Linked DNA regions of Homo sapiens. The protein of the gene in region 1 interacts with the protein of each later gene in a pairwise test. Each region holds a gene or a part of one and is shown on either strand. Other genes may lie near its edges.

Region 1 (7,276 bases):
AAAATTTTTCAATTCTTACTGATATTTTTGTCTGCTTGTTCTCCCAAAAGATTTGTCTATATCCTTCTTAGTTCTTTAAATTTAACTTTATATGTAGAACAATAATATGTATTTATAATATATTAGAAATTATGTTACTAGATGAATATAAATTAATATTTGTTATATTTTTTGTGTGTATTGACCCTTTAATCATTATGCTTTTTTTTTCCTCTGGTAATACTTCTTGGCTTAAAGTCGTTGTTATTAGTTGAACTACATCAGATTTTTGTTTTAGTGTTAGTGTGCATATACATGTGTATGTGTATATATATATGTATTTATAACTATATAGACATACATATATACATACATATTTACACATACATATATACACACACAAACACACTTTTTTCCAACCTTTCTGTGTTTTATTTAAGGTGTATCTTAAAAGGAACATTTTGTTGGGTATTGTGGGACTATGGTTATTGATGTATGATGTGATAGAATTATAGATATTTTCTTTATGTATATCTGCATTTTCTGTGAATTGTATTAATAAGTAAATTTAAATATTTAAAACTCACATCATTGACCTTCAGAAGAGACAGATTAAAAAATAAGAATAACTTATTGTCCTTATATGTATGCAATATTTAATATTAATGCTTCAGGCACTAAGGACTAAGGCATTAATGCTTCAGGACTAAGTCAGATTATTTGTAAAAATAAACCCAGTTTTGGCCTTTAATATGAAATGGAGTTATTTCTTTAATACGAAATTGAGATTGAGATGGATTTGCAGAAGTGCTGTTTAAGAATCGTAAGATGAGATTTTACAAATATTCATAATTAGCTAAGTCTTCCACCTCAGCACTTCCCAAAATCTTAGAATCTCAAGAACAGTAGTGCGCACTTTAAAAAGTCTTCTCAAATATTTCGAATACAGCCCTCCTTTTTCCTTGCTCTTCTCCCAATACATACTCACATTCAGAATCATTAGTAAGAAAAGAATAAGCTAATCATGAGAAGCTGAAAATGAAAATCTATAATGTATAGGATGATCATGAAATATACAAAAAGGAGTGTTTTAAAAGTAAAGGGGAGGACTATTGACAATCCCCTCAAGACAATTTTCATAAACTTAGACCAGTGGTTCCCAACTACAGGCGATTTTGGCAATATCTGATGTTTTTGATGGTCGCAATTAGCAGAGTGTTACTGGCATCTAGCCAGCAGAGGCCAAGGATGCCGCTAAACATCCTCCACTGCACAGGACACCTTACATCAAAAAAACATCCGGCTCAAAATGTCACAGACGCCGAGACTGAGAAACCCTGCTTTAGACTAACCAAGCAAATGAGAGTATGCTCACTCTTAATTATGGGTGGATAACAATACAATCATACTTTACTAAGCTTGGGGAGAATTTGATATCCTTACACAAACATCCACAGAGTTTCAAACTTACGTGTGGTTTTTTTCCCCTCGATAAAATTTCTTTTAAAATAACAACTGTAGTGCGAGTCAGGAGATTTCCACAAGGTCTCTGAAAGAATGACCTTTGGACATAACCAGGCTTGGATTCAGCTCCTGGTCGCATTACTTAGTGGCCGTGTGGTCTGGGTGAGCTCCTTTATCTCTGAGCTAATGCAGGTCATTCCAGGTGCAGGGATTGCAGCTGAGCACGGTGGAGTAACAAGTCGGGGAAGCGAAAGAAAGCAAGGAGAGCGCGTCCTCCCGAGCATTTCCAAAACCAGTCTCTGGAGTACTTTCCTTAAGACAATGGATTGATATAAGGCTATGAAGGCTGTGATGAAAAACCGTTAGAGAAAACTGAAAAGAAAGCAAACAGTCTGTTAAATGAAGGATTGAAATGTCAGTGGTCAGTCCTCAGCCACATAGTGAAGCAGAGACAAGGCTGTCTCCAGAGGTGCTTTCACTCCCACCACTTTACTCCCCTGCCCCCACGTCCCCCAAACGCAAGACACAAATCTTCACTTATTTCTTCCCAGTTAAAACGTGTGCGGGAAACCGAAAAGCAATGTAAACCTCTCCTGGAAAGGAACAAGTGCCTCGCCAAGAGAAACGATGAACTGATGGTGTCCTTGCAGCGCATGGAAGAAAAACTAAAAGCCGTTACCAAGGAAAATTCAGAAATGGTGTGTATCACAGACTCTGCAAAACTGCAGCTTCCTTGATTATATTACCTTAATAACCTGACTTATTGCCATTTCTCAGCTTATTTTAAAAATACAGTGCTATTTGGATTTTTCCTTATGTAAGCAAGGAAGCCTTAATGAAGAAAGCAAGAGAAGGTTGCTGGCTCTGAATTTTATGAGGTTTCTATATTTGCAAAACTGTAGGAGTGCTTCCAGGAATTTGCACACTTTCCAAAGCTTGGAAATGGAGAAGGAAAGCTTTGACATAACTTAGCCACAGAAACCATCCATGACTTCACTAACATGCTATTTACAGACCTATACCCCAGGCACACCTTGTCTTCTAAGATCGTGCATGATATTTGGGAAATAGATACCATTACTTGTGTTATATGCGGACAAGTGAAATGATAATGTACTCCTTAATAGACTTTCAATACATCTATAGAGATCTTTGACAATCCCCAATGATAATGACTTATTATGGCAGATAAAATGTGCTTGAGGATTTAGTTGGTGTATGTGTATTCAGGCTGGGCAATTTCCAAATTTAGCTGGAGCCTCATAAACTTTCTACAGATATTTTATGTTAACAACCAAAGTTTGAGGTTTTTAAAGTCTCCACCTGTACTTTCTTCTTTTCCAATCCAGAGAGAAAAAATAACATCCCATCCACCCCTGAAGAAATTAAAATCTCTGAATGACCTCGACCAAGCTAATGAAGAACAAGAAACAGAGTTTCTAAAACTTCAGGTCATTGAGCAACAGAACATTATTGATGAGCTCACAAGGGTACGTGTCAATCAATCTGTAAACCCTAAGTTGTTCCCAAGGACAAGTAGCCAACAAAATATACACTGAAAGCAGTTAATTTTAGTTTAACCCCAGAGGCCCAAGTTCATATGTTAAATATGTAATTTTGTTCTAGAGACTGTATTCCAATATTTTATATTGTTCAACTGCTTTACACCTTTTAAATTATAACCCTTTGTTAACTAATTTGGTAGCACAAATAATAACAGCAAAGCACATTAAAAGAACTTTTAAATGCCTCGTTGTATAAGTTTGTAGGTAGGTTGGGTGTGTCTTGTAACTGCCTTCCAGTAGCAGGATCCCGAGGCTCAGAGATTTAATATGTTGTCTATGCTAACAACATCACATATATACCTTGTTTCCCAGGTCTCAATTCAGTGTCTAGCACATAGTTACAGTTCAACAAATATTTGTTGGATGAACAGCAACAATATAATTACATAACAGAGCTAAAATTTCAGCCCAGATTTTCTGATCATTACTTCAGTACCTACTGAGTGGGTAGAGCAGTTATTACTTCCATCAGAGTTTGGCTGAGGTTTGTGTTGCTAGTAAGGATGCACTAAGACCTCTAGGTGCCTTTGGGTTTTCTTCTTTGCCTCTCCATCTGTGTTCTGTGAATGACATCGTTGGTTGCTCTCACTTCAGGACCAAGTCAAGGCCTAAAGACTTGAATTGCAAGGAGGGAGTTAGGCAATAGTCTCCAGAGTGAGGTGAGAAAAGTGATTCACTGCCACTGAGACAGAGAAAGGTTATAGCTTCTGTTTATAATTACTTATGATTCATCCTTTTTAAAATTTCTATGTTGACTATATGTTACAATGAATACATTAGATTAGGAAGGTAATTTAAATATATAATTGTATTAGGGCTCTCTAGAGGGACAGAAGTAATAGGATAGATGTATATATAATGGGGAGTTTATTAAGGAGTATTGGCACACACGATCGCAAGGTGAGGTCCCACAATAGGTCATCTGCAAGCTGAAGAGCAAGGAAGCCAGTCCAAGTCCCAAAGCTGAAGAACTTGGAGTCTGATGTTCCAGGGCAGGAAGAATCAGGAGAAAGATGTAGGCTGGGAGACTCAACCAGTCTAGTCTCTTCACGTGCTTCTGCCTGTTTTTATTCTGGCTGTGATGGCAGCTGTTTAGATTGTGCTCACCCAGATTGAGGGTGAGTCTACCTTTCCCAGTCCACTGACTCAAACGTTAAACCTCCTTTGGCAACACCCACGTAGACACACCCAGGAACAATACTTTGTATCCTTCAATCCAATCAAATTGACACTCAATATTAACCATCACAATAATGTGTAAATTGTAAAAGTCTCATATATAGAGGCTGCATTTTTACTTATAAAGGTGAAAAAAAAAAAGCCCGAACACCACTGGCTTAAACAAGATTACTCATTACTCCCTGTTTTCCTCATTTCATTTTCACATCCTAATAACTCATACATTTTACAAATTCATGAGCCCAGGAATTTGCCTGGCTTTGAGTATCCTGAGATTAAGCTGTAAATTTTTTATAGAATTTTGGGCTATTTAGGCACACTCATCGGACTTTTCAAAAGACATTCTATCTAGTTTAAATTTTTACAGTAAATACATGGAGTGCTTAGTGAATAAACCCCAAATTCCCATGATATCTCTATTCACAGCAACAATAAATCATGAAATTGATCAATATTTCTAGGCATTCTTTGAGATTCCCAGAAAATTTTTTAAAAACTGAAGACAAAACAGAAACACTAAATGGCTCCAACCCGCTAGCTACTCTGTTCCCTGTCCTATTTTCAGGGACTGCAGGTGAGAACAAGGATGCAAAAATAGGCCAAAGACAGCTTTCTATGCATTTCAAATGACTAAATGAAAAGAATACGGTTTTACTTTATTGTGAAATTGTATTTTTAACACAAATTTAAAGTAATTTTGGATCTAGGAGAACTAAAGTACTGTGCTTTGGGGGAATATAAGTAACTATTTTCATAGCTACTTGATGTTCAAGTATAAAACAGGATTCTGATTAGGAACACAGTACACTTTCTGATCATGAGGCTCCTTGATCCACATAACTCATCAGGAATAGTTGTAGAAGATTCTTGTTTTGAATATATTTAAGTATCAATCCCAAAAGTTGCCAAAATTTAAAAAACAAAGTCTTATTCTATTCCAAATATAATGCCTTATGGGAAAGAACACTCTGTCTTTGCAAAAAACTATAAAGAAACATCTACCAATTCTGGATCTGAAAATCTTTCATCTGTTTTCCAGGACCGAGAAAAGCTCATCCGTAGAAGAAAGCATAGAAGAAGTTCCAAGCCAATTAAGGTAATAAGAAATCAAAGTTATCAGGCATTTGCCACAAACAGCCAGAGAGATGAGGCTTGGCATGGAATCTTCCTACAAAGATGTGATGAATCAGGTGTTCCAGAACTGTTGCAGCAAACCATGGGCATTATTTGCTAGAAGAAAATATTTTCTGTTGACATTTCTTCGAAGTCTAAAAATGATTATGTTGTAAATTTTAACCTGAAAGGGGTTTGCTTTAATATAACTTTCTCTAAATGGAGATGCCCCTAGGTTTGATGTAGAAAGGATTACCTGACAAGTTGGAGAGTCATATTCAAGAAATGCACATGATTTGATGTCTCCCACTTATGACAATTAATACATTTTCATTATTCATTCAGACAATCTTATTGATAGCAATGCTCCCAATCCATCAATATCTGTATAGCCTCTTATAATCCACAAAGTTTTGTTATTCAGTTTGTCTATTTGATTTTTATTTTGGTTTTTACCAAGTATACCATTGGTTTTTAATGTGGACTTGGATGACAAGGCTTAAGATTTGATCATCTCCATCACATAGATACCTGAGTTTTCAAAATCCTTTGGTCATAGTTTAAATACAGGAAAGAGTAAACCACACTAGCTCATCATGATATAAAATGTAATATGAAAGAGGTTTCAGTGTTTCTATGAAAAAAGCTACATATTATGAATTTTTCTTAAGATGTCAGAAGTGAAATAATATGAGAGAAACACTTATTGGAATTATGCTCATGCCTAATGTTTTTATTTCAACAAAGAAGCATAGAGGATCCATGTCTTCTATATTCACTTACACGTATGCCAGTTGACAGTATTTTAACGTTCAACTTTCCCTACTGTTAGCTATGTCAGTAAATAGGTACTTTCCCTCCATTTAGAGGCCTGTTTTGGACCCGTTTATTGGCTATGATGAGGACTCTATGGATTCAGAGACATCATCCATGGCCTCATTTAGAACAGACAGAACACCAGCTACTCCTGATGATGACTTGGATGAAGTAAGCTTTTCTACTTCTCTAGCCTAGGGTGATATTGTCACCAAATCTTTGATTTAAGGGGGAAGAAAAAGGATTTCACTTTTCATCTCCTTTATATAAACAGCACAAAGTGATCTCATAATAGTAAACAATTTTGAGGCTGCACTTTATTATCTCTTGAAAAATAGCTTCACTTATAGCAGGTAAACCTTTTAGAAATTTCTCTCCAGTTCAACTCTCTAATTTGAAGACTTCTTTCAAAATAAAAGTTACTTTCCAATATTCTTTATCTAGGGAAGGTAGGAACCCAAGAGGCCTTAGCAGGCTTTTGGATGTGGTCTGACACTGTTGAGTGAAGTGTGTTCTGTGGACCATCCTCATCAGAATGATCTAGAGGGCTCAGTTACAATGAAAAGTCCTGGACTCTACCATGCAACTCCTGACTCAGGATCTTAGGAGTGAAACACCCCAGTCTGCATTGTTTCCCAAAATTCCCTGCTGATTATGTTATGTCCTGAAGTTTAAGATGTAATGCAATAAAACAGATTTTATGATTTATCTGGGGGAAAAAACAAGTTGCTGGAGATGAACATACTGAAAAGAAATAAGAAAATTCTAGGGTATCATTTCCTCAAATTTAGGTCCAAAATCTGGATATGACTTTTTCTTATTTGGATCCAAAATTGACTACATTCTAAGCTCAAATGATTAACAATGAGAAATGTATCAAATGCTAAATGCTTCTTTTACTAAAATAAATATTTATGTATTTCTGCAGTGTCCATCTTGAAAGTATTACAGTATTTGTGCCCGTATATACACTTCAGAGCTAAAAATAAAATCAAATAGACTGTTAAACAACCTTTTACTTCTTGTAAAAAGTGGGCAAATGTTAATATTTCACATTGAAAACAGGACCTGAACATAACACAATTGTTTTGGGGCTTTTTTTCTTAACCTCAAGAGTTTAGCAGCTGAAGAATCTGAACTAAGATTTCGACAATTAACAA
Region 2 (7,276 bases), on another chromosome or scaffold:
ATTTTAAACCTTTTGTACTCTAAAGAATTCAAGTTAAGAAAATATGCAGATGAGTTACCTGGAGCGAAGTTTGTTGTCCCAAAGAACCTAATGGTGCCCAGTCTCTGTCCTACCACTAACACTCTCTCTCCGAGGCGGAGTTCCCCCTCGCAACGGCTATTATTTGCTGTAGATGTTGCTGAGGAATTCAAACCTGTTTAAGTCAGGGAGGGATACAGGGGCAGGGCAGGAAAAGAGGAGAAAAAACAAAGGGAGAAAAACTCAAAAAGCACATTAGCCAAAAAATCACACTAGGTATTCTAACTAGTCTAGTTAGTTGGTGATTTTGATATCTGATGCCTTTCATCACATAAGTCATCTACAGTTGTGTTTCTCACATGTGAGGTCAAGCTGCTCAAAGGAAATGTGAAGAGTTTCCTGGGAAAATTACTGCCATGGGAAATTCACAAAACCTGATCCCTGGTAAACTACCAACTCTTCCAAGATTGCCTGCAGCATCTCTACTAGAACAGGGGTCACAGCAAACTGTTTCTGCAAATTGCTGGACAGTAAATATGTTAGGATTTGCTAGCCATACCACCTCTGCCACAACTATTGAACTCTGCTGTTGCAGCATGAAAGTAGATATAGACAATATATTTTTTTCAAATGTGCATGGCTGCATTCCAAAGAACTTTATTTACAAAAACAAGTGGTAGGTCAGATTTGGCCCATGGGCCATAGTTTGACAATTTCTATTCTACTAAAATACTAGAATTATAGTATTAATAGTTCACTTAGACTCAGTGTAAATTATATAAAAAGTCATGTGATTTGACTTTTTTTTTTTTTTTTTTTTTTTTAAAGAAACAGGGTCTTGCTGTGTTGACCAAGCTGGTCTCAAACTCCTGGGCTTGAGTGATCCTCCCACCTCAGCTTCCCAAAGTGCTAAGATAACAGGCATGAGCCACTGTGACCAGCCAAAAGTAGTGTGATTTGAAGGTTAAATTGCTATACGGTTCTAATTATCCTAAAGTGATTTTGTTATTAAGAACAAAACCACTGCCCTGTCAACCTGATTCAAAACTAAACCTTGAAATGCCCACTATTAAACATAGAAGTCCTAGAGAAATATGATCTAGAAAGCTGTTCAAATATAACAGCTGAAAGAGAAGAAGTGGGTGCTTGAGCCTTGTCCCATCAGTACATAAACAAAGATTTGAAGAGCTGCCATCTGAGAGGGAGTAGAGAACTCTGGAGGAGGGCATGGGATGGAGGGTAAGTCATACTGTGAAAAAAGAAGAAATCAAAAACACAGCAACTAAACAAGGAAAATAAACCCATGGAGAAGGTCTGGATTATACCAGTAAGTCCGAGGCCCTCATCATAACCAATATTCTATAGCACTTCATAGTTTACAAAGTGCTTTTCCTAAAAATTATGCTGAAAAATAAGATACAAACTCAGGAATTAACTAAGACACACTGTTAACAGCCAGTAAGTGGTACACCTAGATTAAAACCAAGACTCTGTGATCAGAAATCCTCAGGCCCGTCCCCTTGTCGCCTGTAGACAATGAACCAAAGATGGCAAGTTCAACAGTGGGACACAGGCTGGGCATGATGGCTCATGCCTGTAAATCCCAGCACTTTAGGAGGCCAAGGTAGGAAGATCACCTGGGTCCAGGAGTTGAAGGCTGCAGTCACTATGATTGCAACACTGCACCCCAGCCTGGGCGACACAGCAAGACCTTGTCTTTAATAAAAAATAAAAAGTAAATAACAATGGGATATGATGAGGCCGAGGTCCCTACCTTTCCCATTCCCCGAATCCTTTATTTCCACTCTTCTTTCTCTAATTTTTTAACCTAACTTTCCATTATTGTTCGTTCTCTGCAGTCTACATCTCCCTCAAATGCAAATCTATAAAACAAGTGGAATATCTACTCACTAGAGAAACATGTTTTAAGTACATGTCTCTGGGGTTCCCAACACAGACTTTCCCATATCTCCCATTCTCGGCCCATCTCCCTCTTTGAAAGGTCCTCTTTCTCACTCTGATAACTCTCTTCATCTTCACTGTTGTTTAAGTCGACATAACCCTCAAATTTATTTTTTTAAATGGTAAATATATAGGCACGCTAGACTACTTTGTTTAGAAGGTTAAAAAAAAAAAAGTAATTCCATACCCATGTATAAATTTTAAAATCAAGTAAATGTCAAAAGTGCAAATACCAAATGAAGGGGGCCTTAAAATGTGAATGAAATTTGGACAAACAGGATGGCTGTGTCAGCACTGTACCTTCTCACCTCTGCTCCTCACAACATAAAGAAAAACTGGTTGGGGTATGGAGAGAGGAAGCCACTCAGAGAATAAATATTCCAGGCAAACAATTTCAGGGAAAACTTTCAGGTTCTCTACTTTTAGGGTCCCAGTTTTTAGGCTTATTATGTCAATGTTATTGTTGAGAGCTTTGGAGGTTTCTTCCCATCAAGTATTTTTTTAGAAATCTGTCATGAATATTTTCCATAATAAAATGTTGGTTCACTACAAGAACTATTAATAGAAGCACTAAAAAAAGAATCTGGTAATAAAGAGGTTCATGAAGAACGTATTTTGCCAAGATGGCTTTTGCCTTTCTGGACAAGTTCGCTATATAGGCAAATAAGTGAACTGCAACAGACAAAATCTATGTCATTTCGAAAAGAAGTCTGATAAAGTGTTTTACGTATCTTTACAAATAACTGAAGAAATGTGGACTGAGTGAGATTATGCAGGTTCACGGCTAGTTAAAAAGCCATATCAAAACTGGCTGGTATTGCCATCCTGGGAGAGGACCCTCTGACCTTCTCCTAGGTTTTAAGCAAACATAGTTTTAAAACAATCACTTGAATAAAAACACAGAAAGCATGCTTTTTAAATATGAAGATGACACAAAGGCCTGTGAAGAAGCTAAATTCAGATGAGGTAAAACCACTAAGAATGAATTACATGAAAATAAATGCAAAGTCTTATATCTGAGACGGCAAAACAAAGAGACCTTAAGGCTTAAGGTTCGGGGGAGGTGGGGAAGAGTAAAAGTAGTTCAATCTGATTGAAGTAAAGGGTTCCTTCTACACATTTAAAAAGAGCAAATCTACTTACAAACAAACCAAGATAAAAAACACCAAGAAAGCCTGGTTGAAAAAGCCATAGATACCAGCACTGGCTCTGGATGAAAGGGAAGGGCTTTTGCTCATTGTCTTCTTGTTACTGCTGATTGCATTCTGTTTCTTGGGGTAGCTCTGTCTGTGTTCCAAAGAAGATGTAGAGGAGCAGCTGCTGACAGATCCAAGCAGGGCAACTGTAACAGATAAAGAACGTGTCAAACGGTGGAAAATAAGATGTGGACCAAGAAGCAGCTTGTCAAGGCAAATCTTTCTGAAATTCTTCATTTAACTTCCTCAATTATGGATTATCTAGTGTCAAATTAAATGCCTAATTTCATCCAAATAGCAATTGTAGTTTATATATAAAAGATTTTATAACACAAGCAATAATATTTTAAGGATTCCCACGGTAAGATCACAATCTTATGTAAGAGGTATCACCACATCAATTGATGTGAACTGACTACCTAATCTAATGACCATCAGTCACCTCTCACCTTAGATGACATAGTAGAGTCCCCTTTTATACAAAAATTAAACATGATATTAATATGTTTTAAGGCAACAAAAGTTTAATATTAAGACATTTTGAGTTAAACCAGAAGGCAAGAAGGAATACTCATGCTCAATTCATCTAATGATTTGATAGCTAAAGGCAAATGAAACATTTGTGTAGAGTGCTCTATATTATGGAATTTCCGTTTATTTTCTTAAATCTAGTCCAGTAGTTATCTAATTTAAGTAAAAGAATCATAATGCAGTACTTTACACACAAAAAATATAATGTATATAGCTTGCTATGAGCTGCTTCAGTGATTTCCAAGTTTAATTTTTACTATAATTTTTCCCTTGCCAACTTTAAAACTTAACCTCCATATAAACTGTTTTCCTACCATATTTTAAAGTTCCATCAAAAGTTAAATTTTGAGAAACAGAGGTTACAAGGTATATTACCATCTTTCTCTGTCACAGTTTTAAGTTCTTCACCAGGAGGCAATGAAAGTGTTGACTCAGAAGCACTATCTTTTTTTGATGTCATTAATCCTTGGACACAAAAATAAAACACTTTAAGCAAGAATTTTAACATTAAACATAAAATGTATTTTTTAAAGTACATGCATCCCTCATTATCGAAATCTCACTCACTTCTGAAAACATATTGGATAACAACTGCACAGACATATGAGGACATGTTTTGGTATAAGCACTAGCATACGAGAAGGAGACAGTAACAGTGGCTACAAAGATCAATTAATGTCTCATCAAGATGATCACATTCTGAGATGGGTCCTAAGGGACAGGTCAGATTTCTTCCTGAGAATACTAGCCGTATGGTCAGGAAGAACTGAGGGCAGGCATTCTTGATGGACAAAAAGAAAATCTTAAGACACAGAAAATAGTGAGTAGCTTGGCTGGAACAGAGTACTTATGAAATGTAGGAAAAGCAAGACTAGACAGACAGGTCACAGTAACACTTCAGACAGGGATGCCAGTGCCCAGCTAAGGACTGAGAACTCTTCTGTAAAGAAGGAGCCTCTGCTGGGCTTTGAAAAGGAATACTGGCATGAACAGAGTCTAGTTAAATAACACTCTCCTGACAGCAGGGCTGCAACGAAACCACAGCGGGAGAGGCTGGAAGCAGGGACCAGTCAGACATTATTAGCATAGTCCAAGCATGAGAGCCTGAACTCCAACAGCAGAAACTGAATGAAGAGGGTGGAGAGGAGACATTTTGTGAAGGCAACCTGAAGAGTAAATTTTTATTTTTCATTACATTTTTCAGTTATAAAATATTTTCTTTAAAGTTTTTATAAAAAATAATACAAGGAGATTCCCTGTACATTTTGACTAGGTTTCCTCCAAAGGTAATGTTTTGCAAAACTGTGGTATAATAAGTATAATATGTCAACCAGGATGTTGGCAGTGATACAATTCACCAGTCTGAGATTTCCACAGTTCTGCTTGTACTCTTGTGTGTGTGTGTGTGTGTGTATACACTTGGGTGTATCATTTGGTTGTTTTTCATATCTTCTATTTCTTGGCTGAAACTTTCTTTTCATTTGTTTCAAGAGTGTTCACGTTTGATTCTTTTTTTTGTTCAGAAACAGGGTCTTGTTCTGTTAGCCAGGCTGTAGTGCAGTGGCACAATCATAGCCCATTGCAGCCTAAACTCCTGGACTCAAGTGATCCTCCTGCCTCAGCCTCTAGAGTAGCTGGGACTACAGGTGTGCACCACAATGCCCAGCTACACCCTTAATTCTTGGAGTGTGGTTACATTACTTAAAATCTTTATGTGTTCATTGCAATGTCCATGTCATCTCAAAGCTGCTATGCTTGGACTGTCTTTTTCCTTGTAAGAGGTGTTGACTTTTTCATATTTTGGGTAATTTTAAATTGTATCTTGTGTCTTTTGAATATTATGTATGGACACTGGAATAGGTCTTGTTTAAATCCTATGGAGGATGTTGACTGTTTCATTTTAGCAGGCAGTCAACCCATGTAGCCTCTGGGCAGAAGTTCCTGACCACCCTCTGTGCACTGTGGTTCTGATGTGGGTTCCGCTTCCGCAGCCTCTGCAATGCTGTTTGAATTTGTCTCATGTGCTGTGCAGCCCAGTAGTCAGGCTGGGACCCAAGCAGTGGTCTACCAAGGAGACCAAAGGCTTTGGTCAGATCCATGCATACACCACTTGCAAGAAGACCTAGGAGTTCACAGCCAAAATTGTGAGGCCTCTTTCTTGAGTCCCCTCCTCTCTATGATTTCCCTGACACTTCCTGCTCCTGGGCATCCCTTCCCGGTATTCTGAGTAGAATGTCTAAGCTTTCGTTTCCTTGCTCTGTCATACAATCCTGAGACTGATTGTGCCTCTGGGGCCAAGCAGTGAGAAAACAGAAGAAAAACCAATGTGGATTCCATCTATGTCCTTGGACCAAAGTTTCTCTGGTCAGAGACATGGATTTCCCTTCCTTGGGGTTTCGGGTGCCTGCCCATTCACAGCTGCCCATCCATACCACGTAGGACTGCCTGGGGACTGGATGGGAAACAAGGGAAAGAAAAGGCAAGCAATAAAGATAACAGGTGATTTCATCCACATTCTATCTAATAGGAGACCCCTTTTCTGCTCCTCAGACCAGAAATAGAGGGGGCTTCTCTTGGAGCTTTCTGTCTATATTTACCGTATACTTCTGGGCTTCAGGTTAAAAGGATGCTACTTATAATGCCACCAAAAAGTATGGAGTACCTACCAATAGACCTAACAAGGCAGATATAAAATACCTGTAGAAAAAAATTACACAATTTTGTTGGGATATTTTCAAAGGGCCTAATTAAACAGAAAGATATTCTAAACTCATAATTTAAAAACTGACTATTGTAAAGATGTCAGTTCTTTCCCATTGATTTAAGCTTCAACTAAAACATCAGATAAAACCTCAACAGAATTTTTAAAAGGAAACTTAACAGTTTATTGTAAAATGTATACGGAAGGGTGATTTATAAAAGCCCCAAATCAGCAAGACAATGATCAAGAATGAGATAGGAGGTTTTCCACTACTGGACATCAAGATTTATTTTTAAAAACTACTTATTATGGAGTGCAGTATTGACACAGGGATATTCAAATAGCCCAGTGGAACAGAATATAAAGGCCAGCCTAATTCTTGGACAAATTCCTTTCATCCTGGTAGAGAGCTTTCTACCTCAACTATTTACAAATTACCAAGTGTTTATTGAGCACCTGTTTTGTGCATTGCTACAGTGAAAACAACACTACAATTTACTCTCATGGTTCAGTTAAAGTTTAAAATTTTGCCGAGAGAATAGGACACTTGCACAAATAAAGCAATCCGAGGACAAAACCCAAGATAACAAATAACAATTGGGTGGTATGGATAAAAAAAGCACATACAAAGTTAGGGAATGAGGAGATTAAAGTGAACTAGAGACAGGATATGAATAAGAAGTCGAAAAAAATGGTGAGGACCTCAAAAGGCAGAAGTCAAATTACTGCACACAGATAAATAGCATGAGACAAAGTATGAAGGGAGGAGTAAGAAAATGTACGTAAAAGATGGGGAAGAGATACGATAAACCGTTCTCTTCCATAGAACTCTTCCATAGTTCTTCCATAGAACTTCCATAGTTCACCT
Region 3 (8,121 bases), on another chromosome or scaffold:
GGAATGTTGATCCTACTACCCCTGAAATTTTTGTCTTTGGGGACGAGCCTAGAAACACTAACGGAACACAGGAAACACTGGCGAGCTCATAAGAATAAGCATCTGAAAATTGCAAGGAATCAACCATTTAGAGCCCCCCAGCATCCTGGAATACTGCATGTGTGTGATGCTGGCAGGTTGTCACCGCATTGGGTTTGCTCTGCCCTAGGAAGTGCACATGGCTCAGACTCGCCTTAGGCTCTGGCAGCTGGGACTCCAGTCCCGGGCTGCCTGTGCCAACTGTACCACTTGGCAGATACATGACTCTCGTACAGGGGACTTTAGACAAAGGGAAGTCTCCTGTGGAGGCTTCTTGGCAAAACTCAGAGTCTGTGTCCAGGAGGTGAATGAATAACGGGCAGGACCCTGGTCAGAAATGGCGCAGTCATCATCCCTGGAAAAGAAGTCCTTACCCAGTGAGTCCACATTCTCATAACTCTCCTGCACCGTGTCCCTGGAGAGGGCCCTCTTACTAGGATCCTGATGCCCCCACTCCTCCTGGGAGATGTACATTGCCACGTCCTCTAAGCTCTCAGGCAACTGAAACAGCACAAGATCTCCTTTAGCCCCTGATGCACCAAGAACAATTCAAGCAGAGTCATGGGTTAAAGGGGCAAAATCCAGGGATGCCAAGCACATGTCAGGGGGGAAGAAGGGTATCAGGCCTCCAAGTGAGGTGTGAAATAGACAAAGCAGTGGGGGAGACGCTGTGGTAAGGGACAAAGGACCTTCCACATGGAGAACCCCCACCCCCAACACTCAGGGGAGGAAGGGTGCTGGGGGGAGACAATGGAAACTTCCACATCACCTGGGGCCCAGTCATCTCCTTGTCTTCCATGTTCCCTTCAGGAGGAAAAAGAGAAAGCCAGGGAGCAGATAATGCTGAAGGTGACAGAAATTATAATGAGAATGGCATTCCTAACTCTTGGCAACCCAAGGATTATTAAAACACAGTATCCATTCCCCAACACCCAGCCTCTGCTTTTGGGAATGACGCTAAACTGCACAGAGGCCTAATCAGCTGATATCCAAAATGACAGGGTGAGAGGGAAGGAGTACCAAGAGTAGCACTCCAAACCCTGCGTCATTCAAGTGGTTCTAAATCGCCTCTGTTCTGCATAAAAAAGGGCTCTACTGAGACTCCCTTCCCTTCCCCCAGCCCCAGGAGAACCCACACCACCAACTGCAGGTCTTTCATTCCACAGGTGAGAACCTGATCTTCAGAAATTCCTTCTCCTTCGCATCATTGCTACATCCAGCTAGTGTCGGGGGCAACCCCCAAGCCCCTCCTCCCTCCCACCTGCCCAGATAACTGTGCCTCACCCCTCTCCTTTACAGCCTGGGGGTCCCTTTGGGGGCTGGGGCCTAGCAGCTCCTGCAGCCTGGGGCCAGGGCTTCGCTCAGTCTCCATTGGCTCCAGCTTGAAGCTCGGTGACTCTCGTGCTGTTTCCAGAGGCAAAGGCTCCTCCAAAAGCACTTCTGTTCCCCGCCCATGGTTTGTGACCTGGGAACCAACCCACATCACTCATCATCACAACAGGGCCCAAGAGGAAGGGAAATTAGTATAGGATACTGAGAGCAAACCTTCAACAGAGAACCTCAGGCGATCCCTTTGGGCCCAGGTAACAGAAAAATGGTTTACACTAAAGGCTTTTTTGATCCCATGTGCAGGGGGAGGGGTTAGGGAAAGGGCCCACTCCCAGAGCACACCTTCCCCACACAGCTCTTAAGATACACCTCACTCCCTTTTGCTCTCCCCACCTTTTCTAGGTGCTTCTATTCCTCACTATAGGATAGGCTAAATTGGGGTAGCCCTGGGGACCAATGACCTCAGGGCCTCGGTGCCAAATTATCTTTCAAAGTTCACAATTAACGGAGGCCCAGCTTTGCAGAGAAGACCAGACCGTGGACCCTAACATAACAACAGGTAACAAGTACTAAGCACTCATAAGCTAGTAGTGTTCACAACTTTACATGCTGCTCTCCCTCTAAGCCCTAGAAAGTATGTTAATATCCTCATTTTACGAATAGGAAAACAGGCCGAAAGAGATCAAGTAACTTGCCAAAGTAACAAAGCTAGTACTAGCAGATTGAGGATTTGAACGCTGGCGATCTAACTCCATGGCTAACACTAACTGTTGCAGGGACACCGCCTCCGCGTGGAAACAGGGCACTCTTCACTGCTTTCGTTCATTTGGGGGAAAATCTGGAGGATGAGTGTTCCAGGTTAAATCACAAGTCCTCTTCCCCACGTAAGGTCTACTCAGGGCAATTTACTTGAATTCGACCGGGGGCGCAATGTCCCAGTGCTCAGGGCTAAACAAACCACAGATAAAACAGCTCTCTCTCTCTCTCACCTGTTGTCTCAGTCTCCCAAGCTCTCTCTGCATATCCTCCACAAGGGTCACCGCTTCTTCGCCGCTCTCCGGATGCAGCTCCTGCACCCTGCTCTGGATCTCCTGGGGCAGGATGGTCAGGAACTGCTCTAACACCAGCAGCTCCAAGATCTGCTCCTTCGTGCGCATCTCAGGCCGAAGCCACCCATGGCAAAGCTCTTGGAGCCGGCTGAGGGCTTCCCGGGGACCAGCTGCCTCTTGGAAGCGGAACCGTCTGAAGCGCAAGTGGGAGGCCTCGGGGCTCGGTCCTGGGTCAGGTGGGGGCAGCTCCTGGCTCCAGGCGCAGTCCTCCTCCAGCTTCACTATCAGGAGCCCTTCCCGTTCCTGGGAGCCCGGGCCCGACGCCATCGTCAGGTCTCCAGAGCGCCTTAGCCCGAAACCAGCCGTGCCCGCCTACGAAGGCGCCCTGAACCCATGTAAGGTTGGACGGCGCCAGCAGGAGCCCGGGGCCGGGGGCTCCCAGTCCAGGCCGAGGAGCCCCGCTCCAGCCCAGGCGCGGCCGGCTCCGGCGCCTAGGCCTCAGTCGGTCCCAGGCGCCGCCACGCCGGCCCCGTGGCCCATCTGCGCCAGGACTTCCCCGAGGCAGGAACCGAGCGCCACGCTTCTCACCCTATATAGAGGACCCACGCAAGACTCAGACCTCTGCTCCCACGCCGGAAATCTCAGCGCGCAAGTTAGGCGTCCACAAGCCCACGGCGCCTGCTCGTGACCAATTTCCGGGTCACGTTTTGCGAACTCCAGCGCCCATTAGGTCAGGTTTCTCCACACACTCACCGCCTACCAATGAGAAGGGAAGATTGGCCTACGGGGACTGGATGAGCGAGGGACCAATTGGAGACGAGAGGCGGGGCCACGGGGCGCGCCCTGAAATTCTGGGAGTGACTGGGGGCAGGGCAGCTGGATCCAAGCGAAGAAAACAAGCCTGAGGTCGTTGTGACTGGCGGGCAACCTGGGTTAGAATTACTCCGGAGCGCTTGGGAAAACGCAGATCCCAGGGCCACGCGCTCTCCAGTGCGTCAGTGTCGGGGTGAGACCCGGAAATCTGAATTGTTAATCAGCTTCCCCGGATGAATCCTTTCCCAAGCCAGGCCCCACCCGCTTCGGCTACTCTGGGCTGGCTGAAGATGGTCCCATTGGCCCCTGCGGCCTCGTCGGCTCCGGAAGCCAGGGGCTCCTCGGCATGTCGGGGAGGCCAGGGAGCTAGCCGCCCGCCCAGTCAGTGGCGCCGCGTGGCCTGCTGCGCGGGGCCTGCTGGGAGATGCAGTCCGCGGCGCGGCCTCGCGACTGCGCGTGCGCCCTGGGCGAGCGCCCAAGAGCCCGGCGGTTCTGAAACCCCGAGTCCCGCGGAGAACCCTGCTGGGCTTTGGGCTCGCTTCTGCGGCTGGACGTCCCAGAGGAGCGCTCGGGTCTGGGTTCGCGGCACCTGCTTCCGATTTTAGACCGAATTTTAAATCTGCCCGAGATGTGCAGCGCCTGCAGTTCATTCTCCAAGTTTCAGTCTCTTACCCAGCCCTGCAAGGGCGGGATCTGCCTCCAGCTCCGCCGTGGACTGTGATAGTTGGGGGCGAGTGGCAGGAGGGCCGCAGGGCCGATTCCCTATTGGGCGCGGTTGTGGGCTTTGTGTCGGTGAGCGGGGCTGCCCAGTTGTGAGGCGGCCCAGGTCCTCCGGGCCATGAGATCCGCAAATGGAAGCGTCCTGGGATAGAATGTGACAATCAGTTACCGTGTATTGAGCGTTTATATGCAGATCGATCCTGAAAACACGTTAGTATGAAGCAGATGCTATTAGCAGCCCCTTCCTACAGGTGGTGGCACTGAAGTCATTTACTTGGGTCACACAGCTAGTCTGTCGTCAAAGGTGAGGCTACCATGATAGTAGAGGGTAATATGGGATTAAAGGGGTTTGTGATGACTAAGTGAAAAGAGTACTGATATTTTAGTTTTTTTCTTTTTTTTTTTTTTCCGAGACGGAGTTTCGCTCTTGTTGCCCAGGCTGGAGTGCAATGGCGCAGTCTCGGCTCACTGAAACCTCCCCCTCCCGGGTTCAAGCGATTCTCCTGCCTCAGCCTCCTGAGTAGCCGGGATTACAAGCGCCCACCACCACGCCCGGCTAATTTTTGTATTTTTAGTAGAGACGGGGTTTCACCATGTTGGCCAGGCTGGTCTCAAATTCCTCACCTCGAGTGATCTGCCCGCCTTAGCCTCCCACTGTGCTGGGATTACAGGCGTGAGCCACCACGCCTGGCCTTTTTTAAAAATTTTATTCCAGGGAAGATGACAGATCCACAGGCTGTCGTGGCAGATGCAGAGCCAGCGACCCCATAGCACTCAAGGTCCAGTTTGGAAAGCCTTGTTTGCTCCCTAGGACCATTCTGGTGGTTTTAGGCATTCCTGTTCTTTTGTTTTTGAGATAGGGTCTTGCTCTGTCGCCCAGGCTGAAGTGCAATGGCACGATCATTGGACATTCCTATTTCAAGAGACATAGATTCTAGACTCATAACCAATTGCAGAAGACTCTAGCCTCAAAACCACTTTTCTCTGACATTTACTATGTAATCTCAGGCAACTTATGTAATCTCACTAAACCCCAAACTTCAGTTTCCTCATTTGTTTTGAGGGACTACTATACGCACCTCACCTCATATCACTGGGTTAGGATGAAATGAGCGGAGCTACACAGGATGCTTAGAACAGTACCTGGCACATAGTATGAATCCGATAAATAGTAGCTGTTACGCATGCACAGCAAGTTCCTGAATGTGTGCCTTATCTCAAAAAAGAAAAGCCACTCAGATTATTATTGCAGAATCTGTGGCATGGGAATGTTTGCAGAACTACACATACCTTGAGATAGGGAGAATGAGGGATTAATCATTTTCTATCTAAGGTCCTTTTGATTTTATGCTATTTATAGGTACTTAAAAGTAGATGAATTTAGGCTAGGTGCGCTGGCTCACGCCTGTAATCCCAGCACTTTGGGAAGCCAAGATAGGCGGATCACGAGGTCAGGAGATCGAGATCATCTCCTGGTTAACACGGTGAAACCTCGTCTCTACTAAAAATACAAAAAAATTAGCCGGGCATGGTGGCGCACGCCCGTATTTCCAGCTACTGGGGAGGCTAAGGCAGGAGAATCACTTGAACCTGGGAGGCAGAGGTTGCAGTGAACTGAGATTGTGCCACTGCACTCCAGCCTGGGCGACAGCAAGACTGCATCTCAAAAAATAGCAATAATAATTTAATTTTTTAAAAAAAGATGAACTTTCAGGGTTATTCAAAATCAGTGGTGGTAGTAGTCCTCCTCCAATTCTTTGTGATCTGCCAGTATGTGGAAAACAGACTAGCTGGTATTAGACTAGGAGTGGTGTTAACAGGCCAGCAGATTTGTAGGGGTTTTTTGTTGTTTTTTCGAGATGGAGTCTCGCTCTATCGCCCCGGCTGGAGTGCAGTGGTGGGATCTCAGCTCACTGCAACCTCCGCCTCCCAGGTTCAAGCGATTCTCATGCCTCAGCCTCCCGAGTAGCTGGGATTATAGGCACCACGCACCACACCCGGCTAATTTTTGTATTTTTAGTAGAGACAGAGTTTTGCCATGTTGGCCAGGCTGCTCTTGAACTCCTGACCTCAGGTGATCCGCCCACCTTGGCCTCCCAAAGTGCTGGGATTACAGGCGTGAGCCACTGCACCCGGCCAGGGCCAGGGTTCTTAAGCTGCCTCCATGTCTGGAGCAGTGCTATCCAATAGAACTTTCTGTGATGGTAGCCAATGGGCACTTAAAATGGAGTTAGTCTTGCCAAGTATTACCATACTGGCCAATGCAGTTCCAGAGGATCCATGGATGGGTTTGGAGATTTTTGTAAACCTTTTGATACTGTATGCAAAATTGGATGTGTGTGTGTGTGTGTGTGTGTGTGTGTGTGTGTGTGTGTGTGTGTATCTGTATGTTCTAGTAAGTGGGTTCATAGCTTTCATCAAGTTCTAAAAACCGCCAAAAAGACTAAGAACTGCTACTTTAGGGCTTTGGTGAAAAGTAAGTAGTGAAGAGAAGTAAGCGCCTTTGAAACCAGTACAGATTCTACTTTCTTAACACTGTAAGTCCTCAATGTCCTAGATAGGTTGGAAACTGTTATCTTAAGTGAAAGCACATTTTGTTATAAGGTTGATGACAAAAATAAATTAGTTTCATTATATGTCTTTTCCCTTTAAGTCCCAGTTTCCAAGACCCTATCAATGATGTTAAGTGAGGACTTACCGTATTAGTGATGTTAAGTGAGGACTTAACTGTGTTTTCTCATCCTCAGCTGCAGGTGACTTCGTGACTGTTGCAGAGAAAAATAAATTTGAATCTTCGACAAAGAACCCTTACCACTCCTGGTTTTAGGTCTCATGGGTACTAGACTCTGTCTCTGGGACTTCTTTCATTCCCTAACTAGCTCTTACAGATTCCTTTGTACTCAAGGGGCCAGTTATCTGTGCCTGGTTTTCAAAGTGACATTTGGTGAAATCTACAGTGTTAAGACTTTCAAGACTAGGCCACGTACTGTGGCTCACGCCTGTAATCCCAGCACTTTGGGAGGCTGAGGTGGAAGAATCACTTGAGGCCAGGATTTTGAGACCAGCCTGGGCAACATGGCAAGACCTCGTCTCTACAGAAAAAAAATTTTAAAAATTAACTGGTTGTGGTGACATGCAACTGTAGCCCCACCTATTAGGGATGCTGAGGCAGGAGGATTGCTTCAGCCCAGGAGTTTTGAGACCAGCCTGGGCAACATAGCCGTCATTTTAAATCGATGCTTTTCCTGTCTTTCATCTTAGGGTACATTCAGCCTCCGGGAGCTTCTGCCACTCTAAGCCTTTGCTACTTGCCACTCCCCCCAGCTTTGGTCTCTCCCCTCGTTTACTTGACTACAGCATTCCTTTGATCTATGACTTAGGGTTTTCTTTTTTTCTGAGACAGAGCCTTGCTCTGTCGCCCAGGCTGGAGTACAGTGGCGCAGTCAAGGCTCACTGCAGCCTCTGCCCAAGTTCCAGCGATTCTCCTGCCTCAGCCTCCCGGGTAGCTGGGATTACAGGCACACGCCACCATGCCTGGCTAATTTTTGTATTTTTAGTAGAGATGGAGTTTTGCCATGTCGGCCAGGCTGGTCTTGAACTCCTGACCTCAGGTGATCCACCCGCCTCGGCCTCCCAAAGCGCTGGATTTAGGGTTTTCTTTTACCTGTACCACATGCTCTTTGATCCTACTCCTAGCTTTGAAATCCAATCATAAACAAAATAGCAAATTTAAATGGCATTTCATTTGAAATGCATTTTATTTTTATTAATATGGAATATATTACCTTTCCTCATGAAAAGATAAAATGAGACATTTTACGCCACTTATATTTTGATTAAATGTTCTGGAGTTTAAATTTTCCTTTGGACTAACATTAACCAAACTGTCTTACTAATATTGTTTGATAATGTTAATATTTAGACATATTCCTCTATTTGCATATTAGATCACTATTTACCAACCTATTTTTTTTTTCAGACCAGTAAACTGTCAAGATGAGGAGGGAGAGGAAAGAACTTGGAAAGAGGGTGCAACCCAAACTTTTGTCAGTGAGGGGAGGCATGGCAGGACACAGGGGAGACCACACTGGAGACCATTTTACTAATTGTCTGGATTGATGGAAACACTCTT

The links. The genes of interacting proteins can lie anywhere in the genome.
Region 2: the proteins of JAKMIP2 (region 1) and CLIP4 interact in binary tests that used the Homo sapiens proteins (3 or more experiments, as listed by UniProt).
Region 3: the proteins of JAKMIP2 (region 1) and ZNF263 interact in binary tests that used the Homo sapiens proteins (3 or more experiments, as listed by UniProt).

The regions. Positions count from the first base shown.
Region 1 is NC_000005.10:147,639,715-147,646,990, reverse strand, and holds part of JAKMIP2 (janus kinase and microtubule-interacting protein 2), read left to right. Parts: intron 1-1,994; coding exon 1,995-2,141; intron 2,142-2,792; coding exon 2,793-2,933; intron 2,934-5,226; coding exon 5,227-5,283; intron 5,284-6,167; coding exon 6,168-6,287; intron 6,288-7,230; coding exon 7,231-7,276.
Region 2 is NC_000002.12:29,153,250-29,160,525, reverse strand, and holds part of CLIP4 (CAP-Gly domain-containing linker protein 4), read right to left. Parts: intron 4,173-7,276; coding exon 4,083-4,172; intron 3,323-4,082; coding exon 3,179-3,322; coding exon of another isoform or gene 3,124-3,178; intron 194-3,123; coding exon 59-193; intron 1-58.
Region 3 is NC_000016.10:3,278,481-3,286,601, reverse strand, and holds the start of ZNF263 (zinc finger protein 263), read right to left. Parts: upstream 3,112-8,121; 5' UTR 2,784-3,111; coding exon 2,397-2,783; intron 1,544-2,396; coding exon 1,363-1,543; intron 922-1,362; coding exon 848-921; intron 580-847; coding exon 453-579; intron 1-452. UniProt on the Homo sapiens protein: Transcription factor that binds to the consensus sequence 5'-TCCTCCC-3' and acts as a transcriptional repressor.